2 separate regions of the Homo sapiens genome follow, and region 2 is linked to region 1. The links come from fine-mapping of genetic effects on gene expression. A gene starts in region 1. The other region holds a variant in brackets. All regions are shown on one strand. Distances are between the middles of the regions. Region 1 holds the start of PROKR2 (prokineticin receptor 2). Region 2 overlaps LINC00658 (long intergenic non-protein coding RNA 658).

The links.
Region 2: its variant is fine-mapped to the expression of PROKR2 in prefrontal cortex (GTEx, PIP above 0.99).

What each region holds. Positions count from the first base shown.
Region 1 is chr20:5,315,509-5,318,416 of GRCh38, forward strand. PROKR2 (prokineticin receptor 2) reads right to left here and starts at 1,446. Exons shown (of 3, transcript NM_144773.4): 1 at 986-1,446.
Region 2 is chr20:5,432,476-5,435,383 of GRCh38, forward strand. It overlaps LINC00658 (long intergenic non-protein coding RNA 658), which reads right to left. Exons shown (of 5, transcript NR_038240.1): 3 at 1,697-1,930; 4 at 1,314-1,595; 5 at 1-163. Among named protein-coding and RNA genes, the nearest start is that of LINC00658, 12 kb to the right of the region's middle. The variant C/T (reference allele first, on the strand shown) is at 1,803.

The DNA of each region.
Region 1 (2,908 bases):
GGCCTTCCCCTCGCCTCTCAGCACACCTGGAAACGACTCCACATGTGGGCGCCGCGGGATGCTGGGTAGCAAGGAGATGACCCAGCTGAACAATGCATTTGGTCCACTCCTGCGAGGGGAGGAGAACGCCGAGGGACAGGAACTGCGCGCCAGCAAAAGACACCCTAACCTGGGGTGCGCCCGCCAGCTGCTTTCCCAAGGTGAAAACCTCCAAGAGGCGAGATGCAAATCCCAGTGGCGTCCACACCCGGAGGTGTCTTCTCTCCAGGTCGCCCCTCCGTCTCATGCGACACCCCAATCCCCGCAGCCTCTGCTCAGCGTGGGACCAAGAATGGGGAGTCCTACCCCTCCTCGGCTTTCCAGCCCCCTAACCCAAGACAAGAGGGCGCGCGCCCGGGCTGGGACAGGTCCCAGCCGCATTTTCGTAGATTGCACTCCCCGCCCGGGAGCGACCCGTTCCAGCAGCCCCCTTCCCGCCCCATCAACGCGGCCGCACTGTCGGCGTCTAGAGGCGACATCCTGGCAAAGACAGGAATCAAGTCAGAAATTCAGGCTCTAGAAGCAAAGGCTGCGGTGCCTCCTGGCTGGAAGAAAACGGCGGGTGGGTGGAGGATGCGGTGCGCGGGAATTTCCCCACGGACGCTTGCTGTTTCCTGCTCACCTTTCAGGAAGGTGCCCCTCTACCTGCACCCTCCCCTGCAATTTGGAGCTCGTCCGCGAGCTCAGCTACCCGCTGGCTCCCTCTGCCCGCGCCCGCACACCACAGACTCCGCTTACCGTACCCTACCCGGTCCTAGAGGGCCCAGAGGGGATCTCCTGAAACCAACTCGCCTGCTTGGAGCCAGCCCCGACGCATATCTCGAGAGTGGCGGGAGGCAAAGCAGCCGGAATGCCCGAGAAAAAAGTGGGCGTCAGAGGCCCTTGTCCTAGCGACTCCCCCACCGCACCGACTGAGTCCCGGGACTGCAGGGATCTAAGCCCTTACCTGTCTCGGCGCCTCCTTTCTGTGCGCTCTGCTGCTCCGGAAGCCGGATCGAGAGTCACAGTGTGGTTGGGCGCAGGCGGGCCGCTCGGTTTTCACCTCGAGGACCCGGACTTGCACTTGCAGAGCCGCTGCGTGGGGGATGTCCCTCTTTTTTCCTCGCCCCGGCGGGCTCCTCCGGCGTGTCAGGGTCTCTGGGTTCCAGCTGGAGTTGGCGCTCCGGCCCCACAGCTCTTTCCAGCGTCTCGGACCTGTGCGCCCCGCCCCGCGCTGGACTCCGCCCCGGGGTCCCCGCCTGCCTCCTAGTCCAGGCCAAGGGTGGATGCCCAGCTCCCCCACCCCACCGCGTGCTCTCGGGCTGGTGCGTCCAGGGCGCGGGCACCGTAGCTCCGGCCGCGCTGACGCGAGTCCCCGGCAGCGGGGGCAGCCTCTCGCACGGATTTCAGCGCCTTCGCATCCCGTCTGAATCGGACCACACAGTAGCCGGGTTTCTACCGTGCGCTTGGGAACAGTGAGCACCGCCCTCTGCCGCCAGTCGTGGCACCGCACCCGGGTCGCGCGCGCAGGAGGGGAGAGTCCTGTCTTCCGGAGGTGCCCAGTGCCAGCGTCCGCGCCCACTAGAAGGTGACCCTTTCAAGGAAAGCCCGGCTCCGACGAGTGCGGTGTGGGCCTTTGGAGATGGCGGTGAAGGAGGAGGCCCCCAGGAGGAAGCTGGGGATGGGGACAGTTTGCTCTGCTCAAAGCCCCTGAAGTCCTCACCCAAACTTTGCGATGACCACCACTATCAGATTCCATGGCCGTATAAAGACAATCCCAGGAGTGCCTCAGCCCATCTGTCCGGAGAGTCTGGAGCCCTTCACTTTGCTTCTGACAGGTTCGAAATCCTCCCACGACCTTCCTGGTTAAACACAGGAACTGCCCATTCAAATGACTGGTGCCCAGGAAGCTCTGGGCATACAGGATTGAACCTGTGGCAGGACCCTGAAGGTCTAAAAAGGTGTTCCCCATCGTTAAACCCCAGCCAGCGGATTATTGGCAGGTGGGAACATGGACTCCACTTTGTCAGAGCTTCCCATTGTTTTCAAGAGAATCTGGAATTCGAGAACTTTAAAAATAGTCTTTGGGTTCGTTAAAGCAAAAATCTTGTTTTGGTCAAAGAGAACCTGTCTCAGACTGAACACAGTCCACAAGGCTGCCAATTAAAAATTTTTGGATAAATGAACTTCAAACTCCTTCAGGTTGTGACATTCTGTGATTCTGCTTTTCCCACCTTACCTGGAACCTGACCCCACTCTCCCTACCTCTTAGCATCTCTCCCGCATGATCAAAGGCAAGAGAGCCAGCTGTTTGCTTTCCTCCTGGGGAGGGGCTGCGATTGGGCAGGTGTTCTACATGCTCAGGGCAACTTCCAGATATGGAGGCAAAAAAGCTCTGTTGCTTGAGTGGGGGAGATGATGGGGTGGCCAGTTGTACGCCCTGGACACATTCTTTGCAATAGTGCATACTTACCAACTTCAGCTAGAGGCTTCTTCGCTCATGGACCATGCCTGCCCTATTCAATGGGGGCAAACAGACCCCTGGGACCATCTGCCCGCTGGTGCTTTCATGGAATCCTCTGAGATGAGTTAAGGCATGGTTGCTTCCACACAGATCTGGCGACCCACAGATGTCGCTGTAGTAACTCCAAGTCCTGACCACCCTCAGCAGAGTAGGAGCTTTTTCTGGGGATGGACATGTGGTCCCCAGGGAGACAGTGGGTGCTTAGAAAACAGTGCAACAGAGTGCTACGGGGAGTTGTCTTAGTTTAGGTTTCCCCCAAGGAGACTCCCAGACAAAGACCTGAGTGCAGGTAGTTTATTGGGAGCAGATCCCGGGAAGCACACACAGGGGGAGGGGAAGTGAGGCAGGGAAGGGAGAAGGGCCCAT
Region 2 (2,908 bases), 120 kb after region 1:
GGCAGCTTCTGAGTTGGACATGCCCATTTTGCAGATGGGAGATGAAGGCTTCTGAATGTTAACTAACCCGCTAAGCTGAAGAGCCAGGAGGATTTGGACCCCGGGCTGCCTTCACAAGCCCACCTTCTGCTGGTCCACCTCCTCATCCCAGGATCTAAGGAACCTGAGGGAAACAAGAGCCCTGTATTAGTAAAGGTTTCCCAGAGAATAAATAGTTATAGATCAATAGCTATGAGATTTATTATAGGAATTGGCTCATGTGGTTATGGAGACTGAGAAGTACTCCCATCTGCTGGCTGCAAGCTGGAGAACCAGAAAAGCCAGTGGTGTAATTTGGTTCAAGTCCAACAGAGTGAGAATCGGACTAGCCTTGGGGGGACAGGGGGTGGGGGAGCCTGTGTAAGTCCCAGGATTTGAAGGCCTGAGAAGCAGGGCACAGATGTCCAAGGAGAAGATGGATGTCCCAGCTCAAGTAGAGGGAGTGAATTCATCCTTCCTCCACCTTTTTATTCTATTCGGGCCCTCAGTGGATTGGACGGTGCCCACCCACACGGGTGAGAGCAGATCTTCACCCAATCCACTGAGTCCAATTCCAACCTCTAGGGGACAGCCTCACAGACACACCTAGGAATCATGTTCCACCCACTGTGTGAGTATCCCTTAGCCTAGTCAGGTTGACACATAAATTTAGCCACCACTAGCCCTCTGTACAAGGCCACTGCCCCACTCCCTGGGCTGGCTTCTGATGCTGCCTGCAGGCCAAAGCACCAAGATCTTGGCTAGGGTCCCCATCCTGTAAGCCATGCAAGGACATTCCTTCCCTCCTGTCTAAAGCCCTTCACCCTTCTAACCACTCCGCTCTGGTGGCCAACGCTTTGAGGGGGTAGCAGAGAAAGCTGTGTATTCAAACCCCTGAAAGAGGATGTCCTAAGTTTGTCTTGGATGGAACTAAACCATCCCACATCCATAACTGTGGGATCCCTGCCATCCCGGAATTATCTTATATTCACAACTCCGACTTAAGGCACAAACAGAAGCTACTGTCTGACACGTTGGCCCTTGGCTGGTACACACAGAGTTGAACCATCTGTTGGGCAGTTTGCCCAAGGCTTGTCTTGCTTTTGGCAGCCCATATTTATCTACAATGGGTCTCTCTGATATGAGGGTAGACTTTGCTGGAGGCCAGGGTAACAGAGCATAGGAATTAGGCATGTGTCTCCTTCCTTGATTTTCCAAGATGCCTTTAGAGGATCCTCAACCTGCTGACACTTGCTGACTAGTAAAGCCCTTCCCTTTTCTACAATTGTACTTACGAATATCAGATAAAGGCAGGAAAGGTTGGGAACATGCAAAAGAGCCCCTAGCAGCTGTGTGGGGAAGCGGACAGCTCCCCTGTGGGGCCTGTGATGGTGCATTGGTATCACGGTCTTGTGTGCAAAGAGGCCGGGACTGTTCTTCCCACTTGCTGGATCAAAGAGGTGGCACACCTTGTTGAAGGTAAAAAGAGCCAAAGGCTTAGAAGGAACTTCCATGAGACTCTCCCTCTCCTCTATTGGTGCTCACTTAGCTGAGAATATGTACAACGATATCCTGGCCTGGGACAAAACAGAGCAGGTGCTAAGAGGATCACGGCTGTCACCTGATATCATTGAAATGTTTGGGGCAGGGGGTCCTCCCTCCGGGCCTTGCCAGGTACCCCTCTACTGTGCTGCTCCATCTCACTCCTGCTGACTCGTCCACCATGGGACAATCCAGAAAAGCATGAGAAAAGCACTTGGCACTTCTTGTGTGGGAAGACATCA[C/T]AGTGGCCGCATCCCCCATGAGTGTTCCTATCTTCTGTGCCAGGGCTGCAGAGAACACAAGCTGTGGCTGCGGCACTCACTGCCTACTCTGCCTCCTCCATTCACATCTTCACACAGATGCCAACTGTCTGCCAAAGGGAATAAAAAATAAAAGCAGAGTGAACTTGACATCCTATACCTTCCAGCATTATCCCTCTGAACAAAGTAGAAATGGTGCAACAGCTGAAGAAAAGGACTCAGAGAGGAGAGAACGGAAGAATGATGAGATGTGATGAGTTAGTGAAGTCAGGCCCCAGGAAATTCCACACCAGCAGCATCAATCTGCCTTCTGTACCCAATGCTGAGGGATCAAAACTTGGAGCCCAGGGCTGGAGCCTCAGGATTCCTCCCCAAATCACACTGGCATGACTGTGTGCAACCCCGGAGTTGGGCTCATGTTTCTTCTGGAATTGTAGAATATAAGGCACAATTTATTCTATCCTTTCATCTTCCTGCTTTAAGTTTAGAAATTGCTGGTGGCTTTCCCTTAAAGGGAGTACATTTAAATTTTTTGTATTAAGTTCTTAAGTTTCTTAAGGCAAAATATTGATGGTACCATCACCATCTTCGTCTGAAAGTCATGTTCACATTATAGAAAAGACTTTCGCTAGACTGAGTCTTCCTCAGTCAAAGATTATATCTTGAAAGTGTATACTAGGTTAAGCAACACTTTTGAAATGTTATCATACTTTAATCAGAATTTCACACACAACACATTAAGAGTAGCCAACAGTGAGGTCAATGTCCTTATTTTCAAAAAAGCATTTTTCTCCAGTTTATTTTTATGAAAGGTCAGTGCCTTGGACATAATGTTCACTTCCATTCAAGAACATTTCTTGATAAGTAGAAATAATTTTTCAGGCAAAAACCTGATGTTCTAAGTTCAATAATAACCTGTTTCTACACTATGCCAAATTCTGGTGTGAAGGGAATTTTTACTGACATGGTAATTTTTTCACACATTTTATGATTTTTAAAAAATAGCCAGGTGTGGTAGCTAACACCTGTAATCCTAGCACTTTGGGAGGCTGAGGCGTGTGGATTGCGTCAGCCCAAGGGTTTAAGAA